Linked DNA regions of Homo sapiens: all the other regions are linked to region 3. The links come from fine-mapping of genetic effects on gene expression. A gene starts in region 3. Each other region holds a variant in brackets. All regions are shown on one strand. Distances are from middle to middle.

Region 1 (6,797 bases), 150 kb after region 3:
CCTAAAACCTTGAAAGTCATTCTTGGTTCTCTTTTCCTCATACTTCCAATCCATCAATAAATCCTGTCAGCTCTACCTCCAAGAATCTTACTACTTCTCACCACCTCCACTGCTACCACCACTGGTCCAAGCCACCATTATCCCTGGAGTCTTGTAGTAGCCAATAATAGATAGCTACAGTTGTTTCTCAATACACAGGCAAATTGATTCTTTTAAATGGAAATCAGATCATGTCACTCCTGGGTTCCACAGTTTTTAATGCCTTTCCACCTCACTTTGAGAAAAAGCTGAAGCCCCGGCAATGTCCTACAAAGCCCCACACAACTGGGCCTCAAGACAACATCTCCTTCCACTGTCTCCTCGCTCACTCTGCTCTGGTCACCCTGGCCTTCTCGCTGTTCCAAGAATATGCCACTCCTACTTCAGGCCTTTACTTTTGTTCCCCCTCTGCTTGGAAACGGCTTCCTCCAGATGTACACAACGCTTGCTTCCTCATTTCTTTCAAGTCTGTTTATCAGTGAGTCCATCTTATATATGACATTAGCAACCACCCTTCCTTACTGCTGCAGTCTGGTACCCACTCACCTACTTTCTCACTTTCTTTTTCCCCATGGCACATATCAATATCTGACATATTATGGCTATACTTGTTTATTGCTTGTCTGTTTCTTGCAGTAGATATGAGATCCAAGAGTGCAGAAACTTTGTTCCCTGCTGCGTCTCCATCACCTAGAAAGTACTGGACACATGGTAGGCATTCACATTTTGTCAGACTATTACGTGAATGAAATGAATGGCTCAACATAATCACTGCTAAGAACAAGAGCTCTTGCAAAGCCTCTGTAACCACAAGTAAAAATATTTGTGTTTACTAAAGTCTTTCAGTACCTTAATTTGTTTGCTTTGGTAAATAGAGTCAGAATTTAACATGGAAAAACTCTGAACTCTCCTAGTTGATTTCCTTGAGGCTGACCAGCTTGGAGTGGTTATAAAACACAGACAGGTATTTAAAATTGCCTGGATGTAGCCAGATGCAGTGGCTCATGCCTGTAATCCCAGCTCTTTGGGAGGCTGAGGCAGGCAGATCACTTGAGGTAAGGAGTTCTAGACCAGCCTGGCCAACATGGTGAAACCCTGTCTTTACTAAAAATACAAAAATTAGCTGGGCGTAGTGGTGCATGCCTGTAATCCCAGCTACTCAGGAGGCTGAGGCAGGAGAATCACTGGAACCCAGGAGGCAGAGGTTGCAGTAAGCTGAGGTTGTGCACTCCAGCCTGAGCGACAGAGGGAGACTCAGTGCCTGAATTTCTGTAAGGGATACTAATCTGGTTGGAAAGGAGATGTGGGTCTCTAAGCTGAATTAAGGTGGTTATTTGTATAAGAACATGAGAAAAACATCAACTGCTCATTTCAAAGAACGAAAGAGTGATAAAGGCTGCCGATAGGATTTGGACAGGGAAGGAAGGTACCGAAGCTGTCTTCCTCAGAAGCATAAACACATGGGAGTTAGTCCTACTAAGTAACAGTGTGGACTCGAAGTAGTCCCTGAAATTTCTTTGAACCTCAGTTTCCTCACCAGTGAACTGAGGGGCTTAGATATATTATTTATAAGGTCAATTCCAACCCTATTTTCTGGTGGTGAGATCAGGTCTCAGATTTATATTCTCAGACATAACTTTCATTAAATTGGAAATTTGAGATCCAGTTTCTTTTTCTGCAAAATGAAAAGTTTGACTAAAATGAACTCTAAGGTTTTTATTATTATTTTTTAACAGGTCTAATATTCTTTGTTTTCATTGTGTTTTTGGATTTTTTTTCTCTGCCCAATTGGCTCTGGTAAAATTTAACCTCTTCATTATGATTATTGGTTGCTTCTTTTGTTCGTTTCTTTGAAGTTGTGGTCACACACACACACACACACACACAAAATGTGAAGATATGTCACATACATTTGTAGATGCAGTGTGTGCTATCTTGCTGTTGGTGACCACTAACTTTGCCTTGAGACAGGGTGTGGAGCAGAGATACATCCTTGAGGTTTGTTTTATTCTCTAAACTTGACAGTGAGAGGACAGGAAATGGTCCATTGAGAAACTGGTGACCAAAAAATGCTGAAATTCTTCTTTAACCTCAGTTCCAGTCAATTCACATTGGAAACCGCAGTGCTTTTAAATTGCGCATTCCTAATTCTCTGATTTCTCACCCCTGTGGCTTGTTTTAGGGTCTCTAGGTGTATATTCAGTCAGCTGAACCACTCGAAGGGCCTGGTCACACCTGTGTCTTACCTTTGTGCCTCCATTTCTACAAGTACAAAGACATGGAGGAAACAGAAATTTTGCTACCTCCTTTCAGTGTTAAGTTTGAGATATCCTGATAAAAACCTTCAAAAAAGGGACTGAATGTTATTATTATTTTTTAAAGTAAAGACAAGAGGTTTATGTCCTACAGTTCTGGAGTCTGGGAAGTCCAAGGTTGAGGGTCCTGCATCTCTGAATGTGAATTTTTAACAAATGTGTTGGGGCTGGAGGGTTGGGGTGAGTTGGAATGGGGACAGAGCTCTTGAAAGATGCTTATTAAATCTGCAGTCCTTTCTAACAGACTTTTACAGGTAGGAACGCTTTCTTTGAGAAAGATGCACAGAGCTTGTCCTCTTCCCTTGAAAGCCATGGGCAATGAATGATAAAGTAGTTAGTCATCACAGAGCACTGGTGACTTAACTGCTCAAATCAATAAATATTCCCATTTCCATTGACTCATTTAATGGGAAAAGAAGGTCACATGTCAAGAAAGAGGGAGGGGATGGAAGAAAGGAGAGAATGAGTGAGACAGGAATTTTGAAATGTATTAGAACGTGTTTTTTTCTAACATTTTAGTATGAAGATTCCCAAATTACAGGAAAGTTGAAGGAATTAAACAGGGTATACCCATTTACTCACAACTTGGATCCTGCAATTAATATTTTGCTATAATTGCTTTATTACCTCTATTGATCCTCTCAAGAGTAGCAGTCTGTGAGTTTTGATGAAGGCTTACTTGTGTGACCCAGTCCTAACCGGATATAAAATATAACCTTCATCTCAGAAAATTCTTTCTTGCCCCTTCCCAGGTAATCCCTGCTCCTACCTCACAGCCAGAGGCAACCACTATTCTAATTTTTAAAACTGTAGATTAGTTTTGCCTATTTTTGAATTCCATGTTAATAATACCATACAGTATGAGCTCTTTTGTATGTGAAGCTTCTTTCATTTACCATAATATTTTTGAGATACAGTCAGGTTGCTGTGTGTAGCCATTTATTTTTTAAACCACAATAATCTCTATTCATTTTTAGAGAGTCTCAGGTTAAGAGTTTCTTCTAAAAGCAACAGGAAAAATAAGCTGTTGTTTTTTTTTTTTTTTTAAGATAGGGGAGAGAGAGTTGAAAGGAACCTGAGTGAAAGGTACTTTGGCCTCTTAATTTTCATGATAAAGAAGTTGAGGCCCCGTCATTGCTCTGGGGCACGCAGACTGAGCTGAAACTGGAACCCAGGTCTCCTGATTCACGGCTTGAAAGGGTTAGGAAGGCAGCTGAGTAGGGTGGTTGTTTGAGCTGAAGCCATGTGAGAATAGAGAGTTTCGACAGAGCTTTGCTTTAGAGGATGTGAAACTACAGTAACCTCATGTGACAAAAAATCCTCCGAGGCCTTGGTATGGAGCCAGAGGAGGAAGTTTGAC[A/G]TGGCCTCTGGTTACCAGCTCCACCTCTGAACCCACTGGCCCAGGATGACTTATGGTGAGCTCTCTGATTTGCAATAAAACTAGACATGGGACAGAGAAAGCTTTTCTGCACCATGCACAAGGCAGGACAATGCTAAAGGAGGGGGGGGAAAAAAAAACAAGAAAGACACCTTCAGCCACATGGCCTTCCCATAGCAGGGGACCCAGAGCTGAAAATAAAACACCCAGGGAGGAAGGGATGCTGTGGTTACAGACAGAGCCTTTGTCTCCCAAGTGCATGTTCCAATTCAGCCCAGGATGACAATGACCTGGAGGTTCCTGCCTGCCAGCTGTTGGCTGGCCTTTGTGAAAGTCCCCGAGCTCCAGGCCAATGCTTAGCGGGCAGGTATCCATATCGTGAAGCCAATTGGCACTGCTGGTACCTTTGTTGATGATGTGAGCACAGCCACTGGGAACCAAGGCTGCTGGTGCACTCTTGCTACCAGCTGGCAGGTGCAAACCCATGGGCAGGTGCCCTGGGGAGAGACGGTTCATGCTGCCATGGTAACCGATAAAAAAAAGGAGGTTTCTTCAAGGTCAGTTTGCCCTTTTTTCTGCTAGAGGATATTGTGAGGAAGAAATGAATTTGTGGCAGCCCTGACTTGTGTGTAAATGTGTCCTTCATCTGTTTTGAATTGACACTTCTAATTGGATCTAATATTAGTGTCACCCACTGGGCAAATCTGGGTATTGGTGGGTCTCCTGGGCTATGTCATTGTGGACAAAGATCAAGTCACCAGAGAAGTCCCAGAAGAGACGTTCCAGTGTAAACCAAGCAGGATTGAACAAAGAATTCCAAAAGTGATTTTGAAAAGGCTGACAGTCAGGTTGGACAGGTTCTTCGGGCTATTCCAGGATGTGAAATTAATGCGGACTGTCTGAGGCGTGTCACCCTAGATGTCCTTTAGCCAAACTGTCCTAGGTGCAAGGAAGAAGGGACCCTTGTCAGCTTGCTTGGTGCCTCACGAGTTTGTCACAATGCATTCATTGTAAAGAAGCAAGCTTTCCTTATCATCATTGTCCTTCTCTCTGTAAACCTTCTGCTCATGCCTTTACCTTGGGCAAATACATTTTCTGGCTTTGATTTAAAAGTTCAGCTTCTTGATATTAATATTTCTGCGCTTCATTCTGATAAAAGTTGTTCTGACTCAGGTCATTGGCTTGGGTGTCAGTAATTTTCCCATTTAGCCTCTCTTGTGTGTTTTTCATATTCTGAGATTTCTGTTGGCAGAAATAACAGCATTGTATTAATTAATTAATTAGTAGCATTGTGTTATTGCAGGGGCTTCATGAACCCCTGGGAGAATTTTACTCTGTTCTGCTTACTGGGATGCTACCAAAATTATTTAGTACCCTGACAATCAGAAATATCATTTTTTTGGATAAACTCTAAGCAACTTGCCTGCAAGTATAACCATGGAGGTTGGCCTCAGCTTCCCAATGTACAAAATGAAAAGATTAGATTAAATGATGTCTTCAGGTACTTGCCAGCTGGTTTTCTAAGATGTTTGATTTTAACATAAAAAGAAAACCTGTGAATATATTCAACAAATAACAAATGGAATTTACAAAGCTCTGCACTGGATCCTTGTATGCAGTAAATATTTATAATTCATCTACCAAGTCTGGGTGCTGGGGCTATGGAAGCGGATACAGCATCATTTTCTATTCTGAAGGATCTCATAGCCTAATGAGGGAGGGGTCACAAGAAAAAAATTCTTCTCAAAATTGGCAGGAGTTTGAAGACAAAATTCTGCTTGGGAAAAGAACTTACCTTTTGGTTTGGAAGAGCTTCTAAACTGACATGTTTAATGTAGAAAGATAAGTCTTTTTCCCTGAGCCCCCTCAACTGGCAGGGCCATAACTAAGGTGATATTGAGTGAGGCACTTGCCTGGGATACAAAAAAAAAAAAAGGGGTCGAGGGGGATGTCAAAAAACTTCGTGGTTAAGATAAACTGCACTATAAAGTAGTCTTTTAAAAATCAAAATTAATGAAAACAAAATCCCTGATGAACAAAGGATGAAAATTTAAAATAAAGAGAGGATCTGATCCTGCATGTGTATATACCCTTTCCTCACTTTCCTCCCCCTAATCTTGGCCCTGGTTCTATTAAAATTTTATACAACTTGTAATTTGATTTTTAAAAGCATAGCATTAAAATATTAGAATATTTTAATATTAATATAATTGAATATTTTATATTAAAATATAAAATATCACAATAATATTAATTAGCATAATTAATTTTAATATTACTATTTATTAATATTAATTTTATTACAAATCTGGAGGCATCACATTACTGAACTTCAAACTGTACTATAAAGCCATTGTCACCAAGGGATGGGGGGGTGGCGAGGTATAACAGACTACACATAGGGTACAGTGTACACTGCTTGGGTGATGGGTGCACCAAAATCTCAGAAATCACCACTAAAGAACTTATTTGTGTAACCAAACACCCCTTTTCCCCCAAAAAACTATTGAAATGAAAAAGTTTTTAAAAAAGAACATTAAAAAAACTTGCCAATTTGATTTTAAAGACAATTGCATTAAAATAGTAAACTATTTTAATATTAATATTAATGTAATATTTTATATTGAAATATAAAATTTTATGCTAAAATATAAATATTAAAATAATAAAGTTTAGACAAAAAAAGAGTAGAACAGAATTTAGGGTTTTAGAAGGCTGTCAATAGAGGGAAAAAAGAAGTCTGTGGAAGGAGCCTGGGTTTCTAGAAGATGGTGGTACATAGCTGAGAAAGTCTTCATAGTGGAGAATGGTTTGTGAATATTTATGAAAGAGGTATCTAATAAGGGTTTTGAAGTTGTTCCTCACTCTGTGTTGCCTTTTATCCCCCTTTACCCACTATCCTTCAGTTAGAAATCTGATACATACAATAACCCTTGAATTTATGCTGAGTTGAGAAATAGGACGGAAGAAGGGTGTTGTCCAGCATGTCCAGGAAGTGGGCTAATGAGAGAGTAGGAAAGATGTAGAAACCAGGAAGGATGTAGCAAGGACCGCCTCAGGAGAAG
Region 2 (6,797 bases), 130 kb after region 3:
ATGGAAAACAACAGATCTATTGGTCTGTGCCAGAAACAGATCACAAAAATCTCTCTGCTCTCATGAGCAGCAGCAGCAGCAGCAGCAGCAACATTTCACCAAGAGTGCAGGTCCAATCCGATGGGGATATCAGCTTCATGGGAGGCTGGGGGAGGACAGCAAGGAAGATCAGAAACAAACATGTTTAGAAAAATGTCCCCATTTTTCCACCTCAGGAATTGATTCTCAGAGTATGGTAAAATGCTTCCCTCCCCCTGAATGACAGTGAACCGAAAAGCCAGGACAGAGGTTTCTGTGTTAAAATGTTAATGTGAAGTCTCACTGTATTTTGAGTGCTTAAGGGAAAGCTAATGGGAACTTTCCAGGGAAGATGGTGGGTGTTGCTAACATGAAAATATGTATGAGAATTCCTAAATGGAGGCTTTATATGGTTCAGTTGGAGGATAATGAAATCCTAGCTTGTCGGGGATGGGTGGGTAGGGCAGAGGATGGGACTGGGTGAGAGTGGGGAGAAAGGGTAGAGAAGAAAGCCTGCTTTTGGACTCTGTGGGCTGGGGAGCTGCCTGTGTGAAGGGTCTAGAATGAAGGCTGATGGGGAAACAGAGCAAAACCGGGGCAGTGCCGGATGGAGAAACTTAAATGGCTGGAGAGCTAGACAGGAGGGAGGCCCCTGCCCAGAATGAGGATAGAAGCGTGGCACTGGACATGGAAAATACCAGGGGTTAGTTGAAAAAACAAAAAAAGAAATAATTCTTGAAGGACCATACTGGGAAGGACCTGTGGATTGAAAGGAAAGTGGCCTTTCAAAGTCCCGGTGAGTGATCATCAGCTTTGAACCTGTGCCAAGACAGTCAGGGTAATGGTTGCTTGGCTCTTTCTAACCTTTGTAGCTAAGGCCACGGCTGCCCAATTTGTCTAGGACTTGGGGGACAATCTTGTTTTTGCAAAGAAACTGGAACCCAAAGTTATAGTCCACAGTCATCATGGTGACCTGGGTTTTCAACTCCACTGCAGGGCCTGCTCCATCTTGTAACTGGCCTTTTGCCTTATTTCCTTTTGACTAAAACTCCATTTTGGGCCTTAGGAACTGCCCCTTTGTTTTACAGTTATATTTGATTGAGTACTGGCTACTGTGCTGGCACTCAACCTCACTATCTCATCTGTTCCTCATAATAACCCTATGAGTAAAGCAATTATTCCCAGTTGATAGATAAGAAAACTGAGGCTTACAGAGTTTTTGTTTTCTTGCTTGCCACAAATTATGGGTCAGAGCCAGGGTTTAATCCAGGCATTTTACCCCCAGAGCCCAGTGCTCTGGTCAGTGTCTTTCCCCCCTGCACCGGCTTCAACATTCAATCTCTGCCCTAATTCTTTGCAGCCCTGATTACACTGGGATGATCCTCCTGTATGTGCTGCTTTTAGTCCAGCCATTGAATACCTTCTACATTGTCTGCCTCCCTCATCTTTTGCTGATGATGCTCAGGGGTCTGCCTGCTCCCTGGGTCATGGTCATCTGACATGGACTGGTCCTGCTGCTTAGAGAGAACTCTGCTGGTAGTCCCTGAGCTCTCCTGCAGAGCTCCAACCATAGCAAGGTTCTCTCTGACTTAATCTGCAGTGAACTGGAGTTATGTGGGTGTACTCATGAGGACAGGCTGGAAGCAGTGTTCAGCCAGATAAGATGTGCACTCAGGGTGTGATGTTGGCTGGAGTGTAGGATCAGGCCTTCAGTGACCCCAAGTAGAAATGAGTCCTGTAGATTTTATTTCTAGATGAGCTGAGGAAGGACATTTTCCCCTTTAACGGTGAATTGGGGTCACTCCTTATGGGAATTTTTGGTATGCCTTGAAGGATTCTGCAGCAATTCATCTTGCACATGGCCTGCCCTTGGAGTGTGGGGCCTGGGGCTGTACACTGACATCCTGTTTTGGTTGGGCAGAGGTTCTTAGCCCTCGCCATTCATCACAATCACCTGAGTAGTTCCTAGGAACAGCTGAGCCCTGCGAGGCATCCTCAGAAGTGCAGCTTCAGATGGCCTGGAGTGATATCTAGACATCCATAGTTTTATAGAAATGTGCATAGAAAAGTGCAAAAATCAGGTGATTTTAATGCCCAGCCTGTGTTGCTAACCCCTCATGTGCTGGGTGGTTCTTGGGCAGGAACAGGAGCAAGGCAGGGTGACCTGATATTTTGCACTTTTTTATGAGATGCTTAGTTAGCTGTGGCCACAAAAGGAGACAGAGGAGAAGCTCAGCAAAACAAAGTTTATGCTCACAGGTCCTCGTGACAGGAGGCATGGTCGTGCCATGCAGGGGCACATGGAAAAACACCAGGGTGGTAGGAAGCAGAAGATAGGAACTGGGGGAAGATTTGGCCAGTGCCCCCAATAAATGGGGTTTTCATGAGAAAGGCAGGGCAGGGTAGACAGTTTAGGATTGGCTAGTTTGAATTATTTGGGGCAGCCTCTAAGATAGAGGGGTGGCCCCTAGTTGCCTGATACCTGGCCCTGGGTTAATTAAGGCAGAGGAATATTGCCTCCTTGGGTGCACAGGCAAGACTGGGTAGTTTTCTTATGAAAGGCTGGATTGGCTCATTTTCATATGAAAGGCTGAGCCCTTTGCCATCTCTAAGAATTGACTAGCCCCAAGAGAAACAGCCTCTTTCCAGCTAGAAAATAAAATAAAATTACACACACATGCGTGTGCACACACACACACAAAACCTGAGAAGAAAATAAATCGTTAATGTTGCTTTGCATTGTGAACCTTGAATATTGAGGAATGTAAATCTGATCAAAAAAAAGAAGGCTAGGCTCAGTGGCTCATGCCTATAATCCCAATACTTTGGGAGGCTAAGGCAGGAGGATTGCTTGAACCCAGAAGTTTGAGGCTGCAATGAGCTGTGATCCTGTCACTGCACCCCAGCCTGGATGACAGAGTGAGACCCTGGCTTAAAAAATAACAATAATAATAATACATAATAATTTTTTAAAAATTTAAAAATGAAAAAGAGCCAGGTAGATTCCTTAAAGTGTCCCAGAATGCTAGAGGAAGCTCACCATGTACTTGAAAGGTACCATGAGCCAGAGATTTAGAGAGGACACTGTAGCTGGGAGGCTGTTCTATGGGACTGGGAGTTGCTCAGCAGCAGCATGCATGAGGGAGCGTGCTTGGCTGGCAGGCTGCAAACTCTGAATTCTATGTGAATGTGGCCCCCAAGTTGCCCTGAAGCTTTGGACTGTTGTCTAATGAACTGCTCAAATGTGTTCAACTCTAGTAATCAGAGCTGCAAAGGCAGAAATGTGCTGGTGGGTGGGGGTGGGGGGGTGGGGAGAGAAATTTGGTAATTGGTTCCAGCCTGTGAAAGGCCAAGTAAAAGCGTGGATCATTATTTAAAGTGCAGTGGTCTTTGGATGATGGTTATGATGGTCCACATTTGATGCAAAAGAAAGCCAAATATATTTTAAACAGGATTCAAGAAATACAAAGTTAAGGATTTTCTTAGCAGAA[A/G]AGTAGAAAAGTGTGCATGCTGTTTACTTAGTTTTGCTCACATTTTTTTTTTTTTTAACTTTTTCAGTTCCTGTTTTTTAGCTTTTGTTTTTAAGCCTGTGGGCTCTCAGGGTCAAACTTAGGTTAATTGACGTGTTTTTTAAATCAAAGTTTTGAGATAAACCAAACTTTCATAGCTAGATAGTAAAGCCCTGATCACAAGGGTTTTAAAATCAAACAGGGGGTCTTTGCACACACGGAGCTCTGTGGCTTTGTGTCTGCATATGCATATGGCTACGTGTGAAGGCAGGAGTAAATGTTCCTTCAACTTGCTGAGCCTCCTCTGTAAATTGAGGGGTTTGGAACAGTGACCTGTAACTACAGAATATGGGCTAACAGTTGTTGGGCGCTTACTGTATGCCAGACACTAAATTCTTAACATGGATTATTTTATTTACTCCTCACCATGTTCCTAGATGTCCATACTATTATGATCACTGCCTCTGTTTAGAGATTAGGAACTGAGGTTTAGGGAGGTTAAGTAACTTTCTCAAGGTCACACAGCTAGTGAAGGCTGGAGCTGGGATTTTGATCCCAGACCCCATGATGATAATCACTCTGCTTACATGACCTCCCAAAATAACTTTGTCTCCACTTTGTTAAGATGAGTTCTCCAAGGCCAGCCCTCCACTGAGCCTATTTCCTCCTAGCCAAGTTGCGTTTTGTCATCTGTGCTGAGACATGAGTGGTTACACTGGGTCATGACTGTTAGGCCAACAGGTTAAGCTAATTCCAAATGTGGATAACTGAGTAAGAAGGACTTTAAGTTAGCTTTTCTTGATAACAGGAATGTAAGACTGTGAGCTGGAAGGAACACTACAGAATGAATCATTTTCATTAACAGCAACTTGCTGGTGCACCCATGTTCATAGCAGAGCTATTCACAATAGTCAAGAAGTAGAAGCCACACAAAGTGTATACGGATGGATGAATGAATAGACAAAATGTGGTATTTGCATGAGTAGAATACTATTCAGCCTTAAAAAGGAAGTTACTACATGGATGAACTTCAAGGACATTATGCTAAGTGAAACAAGCCAGTCACAGAAGGACAAATACTGTATGACTTCACTTCTATGAGATATCTAGAGTATGTGAAGTCATAAAAATAGAAGGTAGAAGGTGGCTGCCAAGGGCTGGGGAAGGGAGAAACAAGGAGTTGTTTAATGGATAGAAAATTTTAGTTTTGCAAGATGAAAAGGTTCTGGAGACTCATTGTACAACAGTGCAAATATACTTAACACTATTGAACTGAACAGTGAAAATGGCTAACATGATTAATTCTATGTATATTTCACCACAATTAAAACACAAACAAATAAAAGAATAAGTAACATTCTTGATCTGTGCACTGAAAATTGGTCTTAAGCCAAAATAACCTTACTGTCACATACCTTTAAAGAGATGCTTACAGTCTTTCTTTATGGGGGGAATTGTGAACATGAATTTAATGATTTGTCTTGAATGTTAATTTATTACTCTGAGTTTATTGTGCATCTATAGTGGTTAGAGGGCACAATAATTGTACCTACAGCATAGGGAATGTACAATGCATTTGGATCACTTAGCATAGTGAAAAATAAAATATTTGGAGAAATGACAAATTTTAAAAAGCAATTTTCCAGTTTTAAAATAGAAATACATAGTTTCTCCAAATTAATGCACTGGCAGATTGCTTTTTCACCTTACAGAATCTCTAAACACATCCACACGATTATATGAGGACCAGAACTGTCTTTCTGGATAACTGAGTACAGAACTATGCCAAGCCTTCCGTATAGACTAGTGAGCAGAACAAGTCTTCCTGGATGAACAGCCACTTCTGGGAAAACTAGGTGGAAATGCAGATTCAGCAACTCACAGCCCGGAACCTTTAGGTAAATTTTAACACAAGAGAATTGTCTCATGTACTGGCAGTAGCTCCTTCTGGAATGTATGCCCTGATGGACTTCATTCAGGGCAGGTTGCTGAAAATTTGTGTAGGATGTAAAAATCTGAATAACAGATTAGGAAGGAGCCCCAAGAAACAGTGTGGTTCATCAAGCTGCAAAGGCAGGATGTCTAAGTTTGGTTCCCCAAAAGCAAGCCCGACAGTAGATCTCACGTGCAGGTAGTTTATTTAGGAGTTGAACCCAAGAAGCAGGAATGAGGGGATGGAGAGAATGTGGCAGAAAGGAAAATATTAGGGTATGTTATCAAGGCTGATGCTGTGGACAACGGGAGCATGGTTACCCTGGCGTTCTAAGAAGTGCATGGAAAGTCTCCAGATTGTCCTTTGTTATGCTGGAGCCTGGGGCACTTCTTCACAGTTCTCACGCCTCATTGCTTGAGGATTTCCAAGCTGACTTGAAAGTGGCCTGCCTGGGCTCCCACACCTTCACAGGAGGTCCTGAGGCAGAAAGCAAGAAAATGACCTGAGATTTCTAGAACTCAATGCCAAAACCAGGGCTGAAATCAGAGGTGGGCTGAGGAGATGTGATGTGAGCACAAAGAGTTGACTGGGAAGTCACTTAATATGAGTCCTTGTAAGCCACTCATATTAAGTCCTTGTGGCATACATGGAGAAAGGCAGTGTGGTGTAGTGGTTAAGCCTGTGGGCCTGTATCAGACAGCCTAGGTTTGAATCCTGATTTCATCAACTTTATCAGGCACATGTTCTTGAAGAAGCCACTTTTCTTAGTCCATTTGAGCTGCTGTAACAAAATACCTTAGACTCAGTAATCTGTAAACAGAAATGTATTGCATACAGTTCTGGAGGCTGCAAAGTCCAAGATCAAGGAACTAGCAGATTCAGTGTCCGGTGAAGGCTGCTCTCTCTGCTTCAAAATGGTGCCTTCTTGCTGTGTCTTCACATGGCAGAAGGGGCAAGGGAGCTTCCTTGAGTCTCTTTTATAGGGGCACGAATCCCATTCATAGGGCAGAGCCTCATAACTTATCACTTTCCAAAATGCCCCACCGCTTAATACCATCACACTGGATATTAGATTCCAGTATAAGAATTTTGGGGGTACACAAACATTCAGATCATAGCAATGCTTAACTTCCCTATGCCTTGGTTTTCTCATCTGTGAGATGGTGCTATAAAAGCTTCCTGGCAATGTCACATAGATGGTCTAGATCATCCAGGTGGCACACTTAGCATTCTGGCAGTTATAATGATACAGCAGGTTGACTTTCCCAGGGCCTCAGAATTACTTAGAATGACTCAATCAGAAAACCTGCTGTGTAAGCTTTTTGTCAAAATCCTGA
Region 3 (6,797 bases):
ATAAAAGCAGCCTGTGAAATACCTTTAGTTTTAAACAAAAACTAACATTAACAAGTACAGCATATCTTGTTCTTTCACGGGGCCAGCAAATTGATAGTTTGGTTTTTTAAGTTACAAAAATAGGATGGGGTAATTATATCTACCAAACTCACAATAGGCTGTTCAATGGAGAGTAACACTGTAATTTTTCTTCAAAGACAGTAAATAGGAAGAAAAAGCCCCTAAATTCTGTAATATAAGGAAAAATTCCAAACCCTTGGGCGCCACTTACAGGCACTTTCACTGATTTCAGCTATCACCCTGAAAAAGAGGGACAAACTTAAAATCTTCTATTTAAATACGAGTATTATTTATTTATATAAATTCTAATTCAAAGTATATTTTCTACATTCAAAGATCAGAAGGAAATTCTAAAATTAAAAAAAAGATCACAGAACTCTCAAATATTTCAAAATCTTAGATTTTCCTCTTGGAAGTATGAATGTAACTTAACTGTCAAAAAAAAGTAAAACATAAAGTTCAATTGATATTTTATTGAGTTGGCTATAATTAAGGGTTTTTTTTCCTAAAACTTTAAATGGTAAGTAATAGTGTAGCATAACCAACATGCAATACAAAATATACACACTCAAATAAGATACAAGCCCTTTCCCCACAAAGTTTTATACGAACAGATTCAAATGAATTTCAACCCAATTGTTAAGAAAAAAAAATTCACTATATTTCATAAGGTTAGGGAATCAACATTTTACTATAAATGAAATCTTTACGTATGACATTTGGGATAAACCAACAGCATTCTGACTCGTAAAAATAATTTCTTTAAAAAAGATTATCCTTACAAGCCCATTATTTTCTTATACTGTGCAATTATAATCTACACCTTAAGCAAAGGGGAAAAAACCTCGGTTACAAAACGCAAATACTAAGCATGGATTACTTAGTCCCTAAATTCTATCTGCCTCCACCTTAGTCCTCTTATTTTGTGTCAAGAGACAACATTAAACAATTTCAGTACATTATTTTTACAGTGGATGCTCTTCTACTATATTCACAGCTCATTAAGAGTACTAGAATGCTGACGTTTGCTAAATTATTTATTGTATCCAAAAAGTTAGGTCTCAATAGATACAATTTCTTAAATTTGGGGTTAAAAATTTTTATCTGGAATTCATTTAAAGTAGAAGTTGCCTTCAAAGAATTATTCCAGTTAAGTTTTAATACAATCTGCACAGAAATGGGAAAACTATAGAGGTACATAACTCTTGTAAGAATAAATTACATGTACAAGTGCACACAAAACTGTATCAGTCACAAATCTCCTTTGGTCTCAGTAGTGCCATGGTACAGTGCGAAGCATATTTTTTAGTTCTTGGGGAGAGGAAGGGGACTTCCAAATACTAAATGGATCGTGATTTTAAGCAAATAATCAAATGCACAAAAAATGCCAGATCACTTTAGATAATGAATCCAAACCAAGGACTCCTACTGTCAAATTCGTCTCACAAAATGACACGCTTTCTTCTCATAATAAAGGTCAGGGAATTCTACAGGGCCACGAGGGACTATCACAAAAACATTTCCAGCAACTCAAAATACCCATCAAGACTTTGTACTTTGCATACGTTAATCAGGTTTTTAAAAAACAAACAAACAAGGATGTAGCTGTCACACTTAAAAGAATTTCCTTTAACATAAAAATTTCCAGTAGCCAAAAATGGGCGAGGCCAATAAACCGCTGGTCTAAATTACCTTACACATACTGTACTTCATATGCACCAGAAGACGCATCTGAGCCGAAGCCCACCGCACTGCGGCCCCTGGAATTCAGCGGGCGGCCCGCGCCAGGGCACCGAGCAGGAAGCACTGCACCCGCGCCGCAGTCCCCGGGCCAAGCCGGAGGGGCTGCGGGGAGCAGTCACCACTGCTTTGAAACTGAATGGCTGACACATCCGGTCCTGGCTCTTACACCACTCCGCCAAATGCAAACTTCAAAGGCCAAATTCAAACTCCAAACAGAAGTCACTCAAGTGACTTAGCAGTGCAGTTCGCATTCCCAGGAACACTCAAAGCCCCTTGGGGGCTGCAATTAGACAAACCGCACTTCCTAAAAGACTGCAAGCCTCCGCGAGTGTGCAGCCTCCCGCCGCACGGCTTTGACAGGCGTTACCGAGCCGTCCTCCTGGAGCCCTGCGGCCGGCGCTGGGGGCGCGCCGCCTGCGTCCGGGCCCAGCCCGCGGTATCTGCCTAGGGACTCGAGTCCCGGGCGGGCCGAGGGGCTCTGCCTGTCACGGCCGCTGGGACCTGCTACTTTCTCTTCGGTCCTCTCAGTCTCCCACCCGACCTCGGGCTTCTCACCCACCCCGCCCCTCTTCCGACCACCGCCCGCCTCAGGCTCGGGCCTCGCCCCCCAGTGCCTTTGCCCCGGGGACACCCGTCCGGGGGCGCCGCCGCAGGGCCGTGCCCCGCCCCCGGGCTCCTCGGAGAGCCCCGATTCCAGGAGTCCCACAAAGCCAGCCGTGGCCCCCTACACCTTTTCGCAACGGTTCCCCGCAGAGAGGCTCGCACGCCTGTCACATGTCTGCAAACAATAACAAACTCTTCCGCACGTCCCCGTCCGGTCCCCCAGGCTGGGTCCGGGGCGCCGCCCGACTCCGAAGGGGTCGGGGGGTGCTCAGGGGCGTAGGTCCCGGCGAGCGGCGCGTAGCCTCGCTGCGCTGAACCCCGGGACGCCGTGCATGGTGCCCGGGGTTCATTCATTGCCCTCTGCCCGCTCTCCAAGTCCCCGCCGCGACCCCGGCCGTGCTGCTCACCCGGCGGGGGCCGCTGCAGGAGACGGCTCGGCGGCGGGCGCCCGCTTCTCCCCGGGCTCGGCCGCTGCGGGACTCGAGGCGCCGCTGTCCGGCGCCGCCACCGACTCGGTAAGGTGGGCGCCGCCGCGGCTCGCGGCTCCGTGGGGCGGCGGCACCGCCACAGGCTGGAAGCCGGTCCCACTCCCCGCTGCGTCCGCGGGCTCCGGCGACGGGGAAGTCGAGGAGGCCGGCGGTGAGGCGGCAAGGAAGAGCGGCTGCTCAGGCAGCTGGTCCAGCTCCACACTCCGCACTTTGCGCAGCTGCCGCCGCCGCCAGTCCGCCCGCTCGCGGCCCCCGCTGCCCGCCTCCCGCAGCAGTCCCGCGGCAGCCGCGGGCGCGCTGCTCGCCTTGAGGGCTCCTCCGCCGCCGCCTGCCTCAGGGCTCGTAGCCCTGGCGCCCGGGAATCCCGACGACGAGGCGCGATTCCCCGCCGCCGCCGCCATTTTCTCTCGCGGGCTACATTCGCTCGGCCCCTGCGAGGGAGGGAGGGGGCGGGGAGAGCGCAGGGGGCGGGCACTGCGCCGCCAGCGTAAGGCCTCCTGCGCCAACTGCGTGAGCGCGGCCCGCCGGGCGCCTGGCCTGGACTGACCGACGGGCGGGCGCACTGGGTCCGGCCTGCGGCAGAGGTGTGGGTGGAGGGCGGCCCGGCGGCCGCAGGTGGGAGGGAGTGGGCTGTGCTCTCCGCCGGGCGAGAGGGCGGGCGGGCGAGGTGGACTGGGAGGCGGAGGGGGCGGGGGCGGAGGCGGAGGCGTGGGCTCCCGGGACTCTGCGCGCTGCACGCGCCGCGCCGCCAGGTAGTCCCGGCCGCACCGGCGACAGGAGGAGCCTTGGCGGCAGCGCTGCGCCGCTTCCTCTCGGCAATCTCGGCCCGGCACCGCGGAGCTCGCGGGAGGGGAGTTGCACCTTCCGAAAGAAAGAATTAGTTCCAACTTGGGTTTCTGGTGCTTGAAGGGGACGCAGGCGAGAGGGTTTACAGTCTGTCATTCCCACTGCCCTTTGCAGTGGGCGTCGGGGGACCCGGGCGTGGACCAGCCTCCCACCGACGCGCAGGTGGCGCCCGGGACCGTCGCCTGCTGCAAAGCGAAAGCAAGTCAACGTTCAGCAGACAGGCTGCCGCGGACCAGAAAAATAAAGTTTTGTTTGTGTTTTCTTTTGAAAAGAAAACATTCCTTCTCTATTGTCCCACCCCTGTCCCTGTGCTACAGATAACAAAACTTCAAAGTTTTCTGTAATACCTTACATCCTGAAGCTGCTGATTTGGGACAACTACCCCCTACCCTCACCAAGTCCCCACAGCCTCTGAGAAACCGTTGGGGCGAGGAAGGGAGGCGGGTGTCCCCGTCGATCTTTAGTTTTTCCTTGGCTGTCTTTGGGAAAGGCAGTCCCGTACAGAACCACATATAGCGCGTTTGGGGAGGGGACCAGCGCTGTGCCAGGAAGTGCTCGGTAATGTCACCCTCGGCCAGGTCCCGGCCCTCCCCGAATCCGATGCTTCTCGCCGCACGTCCTTCTTCCCTGCAGGGTCGGGCCACCGGCCGGGTTCCCTCTGTCCCCACTCCTGCAGGGCCTGGCTGCCCATCGCTGCGTTGTGAGTCCTCCTAGTCCCTGGACTCTACGTGAGAAGGTGCTTTGGGATGGAAAAAGCAACATTTACACGTTAATGATTTTTGACCTTTTGTCAACTGAGGAGAACTTCTGTGTTGCGTTTATTTCTTCCTTCCTTTCCTTTCCTCCAGCTGGTTTGTTTAGGATGGGGAATCTCCCAAAACCCAGGAGGAACGTCTATAGATTTACTTTGTGAAACATGATTAAGGAGGGGGGAGGTTGGGGTGGGGGGGTGCGGATTCTCACGGAGATAGTCTTGTCAGTCTTCACATATTTAGACAAAAGCCTGAACTATTTACAGAATAATTCCATTGACTTCTGGAGACTAGGTAAAATGAAAGCCCCTTTCCCAGATACAATGTTAACTGCGTAACCAGGTTAGATCAGAGGGGTTTTAAAAAGTCCAGATTTCATATTAGCTCAATGATTTGAAAACTGCTGTAACATCTCCCATAAGATAGTTTTAGATCGTTACACCCAACGGTACAAATTTTGAAAGTTCAGATAAATCTGTTAAAAATTAAGTCTACATTTAGGCTATAATTATATGCTATTTTAATGGCAGTCAAATGTATCATTCAAACCAAACAGTGGTTATTTCTCAGGTCTTCCTGGGTTGCCACACCCACCAAATCCTAAACTGAAACGGATAAACTTTCCTTGTTCCTATTTTGATCTAAAGACTTTTACATTTGCACGCACATATTCAGGTACCTGTAAGTGAGAAAAGTAAGTGGAAGACTTTAGCCAGAGTAGCAGAGTAAAAAGGAGATTCCAGCAAAACTGATTTTTGACTGTTTGTACAGTGGTTGAAACTGGGGATCAAAGGGAGAGGGCTACCCAGCGCAGCACTATGAACTAGCTACAATTCTCTCACTTCCTCCATCCACCACGTATTACCATGGAGAAACCTAAGTGTTGGTATTTTCCCACAGTTTTTGTTGCTTTGAGTCATTTTTTTCTTTGTTTACGTAAATATTCAGGTTGTCATTATGCATCTGCATATGGACACACTGATTTCTTAAAGAGAGAATCAAAGGACATGCTTAACTGAAAAGGGTGTTCTCCCTCTGCCATATGTTAATAGAAGTTTCTGAGTCTAATGCGTGATTAAGACTCTAGCTGGTTTTGGTGCTCTTCAGTCCTGCTATGTTACTGCAGAGAGGTGGATGTCAAATATCAAGTACTGTAGGCTCTGAATTCTCTTAATATGATTTATTTAATAACATTCAGGAGACTTGTATTTCTTCCAAGGTTGTTTCTAGACTGAAAGCTCCAATTCCTGTTTCCAAGCTCTTCATTTCCATCCTCACTGGGACGTAAACCTTGCAATGATTTCACGCATGCAATTTCATGGCAATTTCATGACCATTTCAATAACCTTAATACCAGTGCATTACAGATCACTGCCTCCACATAGTGCTTCTGGAAACTGCCTACATCACACTTCAGTTCCTGCAGCATATTCACGTTGAGGATCCACTTTGACACTGGGCATTTCCTCACTGTACATAAATATCACAAATATTAGAATGAGCAGACATAATATACATTGGGAGAAATATTTCAGCCTGTACATCATTCATCATATATTTAGTAAGCACCTACTGTGCATATGCAGGAATTTTTCTTCTCTGAGGATATTGTTTGTTGTTTTTCATTTCTACAAAAATGAATAAACAAAATATTCCAATCTACAGATATTTTTATTAGTGGGTATTTATCAGGCTGACTGGTAGAATTCCAGATCCATCAGTATGTGAATGTATTCACATATTCATGGCTGTTTGTGAGATCTATACCTCAGATAAACATAAAAGAATAATATAACCTTGAGAATAGGGTAAAAGCTGGTGTTCTTTCAAGCTTACAAATATTTATTATGGAATACTTGCAGGAGTGCTGGGGCTAGAATTTGGTTTCTGCATGTTCTTTCCAGACAACATACTTCCCAGGTGTTTTCAGATGTTCTAAGTCAGAAAATCCTGTCATCAGTGGGATAATTGGTTCCCTACAAGGGCACTGTAAATGACATTATAGTAGAAGGTCTCTTAACCAGCCTCCATTTAGCTGACTCATCCAGTAACAGATACCAGCCATTACTGTGTGGTGTACAACATGCAGAGGGATGATACAGCACAATAAATGCTCAGGCCAGCGGCTGGTGTGCACCTGCATACTTCTGTTCCCACTAGGTGAGTTATGGGTCCCATGAGAATCCATTGTGCTTGTTCCCAAACTTGATTCCACCTATTACAATGTTCCTTGTGAAATTTAATTAAATATTACACAATTGATTATTAAATTTAAAAACATGAGTATGTGTGTGCGAAAAGAAAG

Evidence for each region. PIP is the estimated chance that this variant, and not a neighbour inherited with it, causes the effect.
Region 1: its variant is fine-mapped to the expression of MAP3K1 in whole blood (TOPMed, PIP above 0.99). The same link has a PIP of 0.9 or more in monocytes.
Region 2: its variant is fine-mapped to the expression of MAP3K1 in whole blood (TOPMed, PIP above 0.99).

What each region holds. Positions count from the first base shown.
Region 1 is chr5:56,667,055-56,673,851 of GRCh38, reverse strand. No RefSeq gene overlaps it. Among named protein-coding and RNA genes, the nearest start is that of C5orf67, 64 kb to the right of the region's middle. RefSeq lists an enhancer at 3,357-3,406 and a silencer at 3,356-3,650. The variant A/G (reference allele first, on the strand shown) is at 3,715.
Region 2 is chr5:56,683,435-56,690,231 of GRCh38, reverse strand. No RefSeq gene overlaps it. Among named protein-coding and RNA genes, the nearest start is that of C5orf67, 81 kb to the right of the region's middle. RefSeq lists an enhancer at 3,475-3,624. The variant A/G (reference allele first, on the strand shown) is at 3,510.
Region 3 is chr5:56,812,072-56,818,868 of GRCh38, reverse strand. MAP3K1 (mitogen-activated protein kinase kinase kinase 1) reads right to left here and starts at 3,320. Exons shown (of 20, transcript NM_005921.2): 1 at 2,814-3,320. The coding sequence starts at 3,295. RefSeq lists silencers at 2,223-2,462, 2,643-2,762, 2,833-3,602 and enhancers at 1,688-2,511, 3,963-4,092.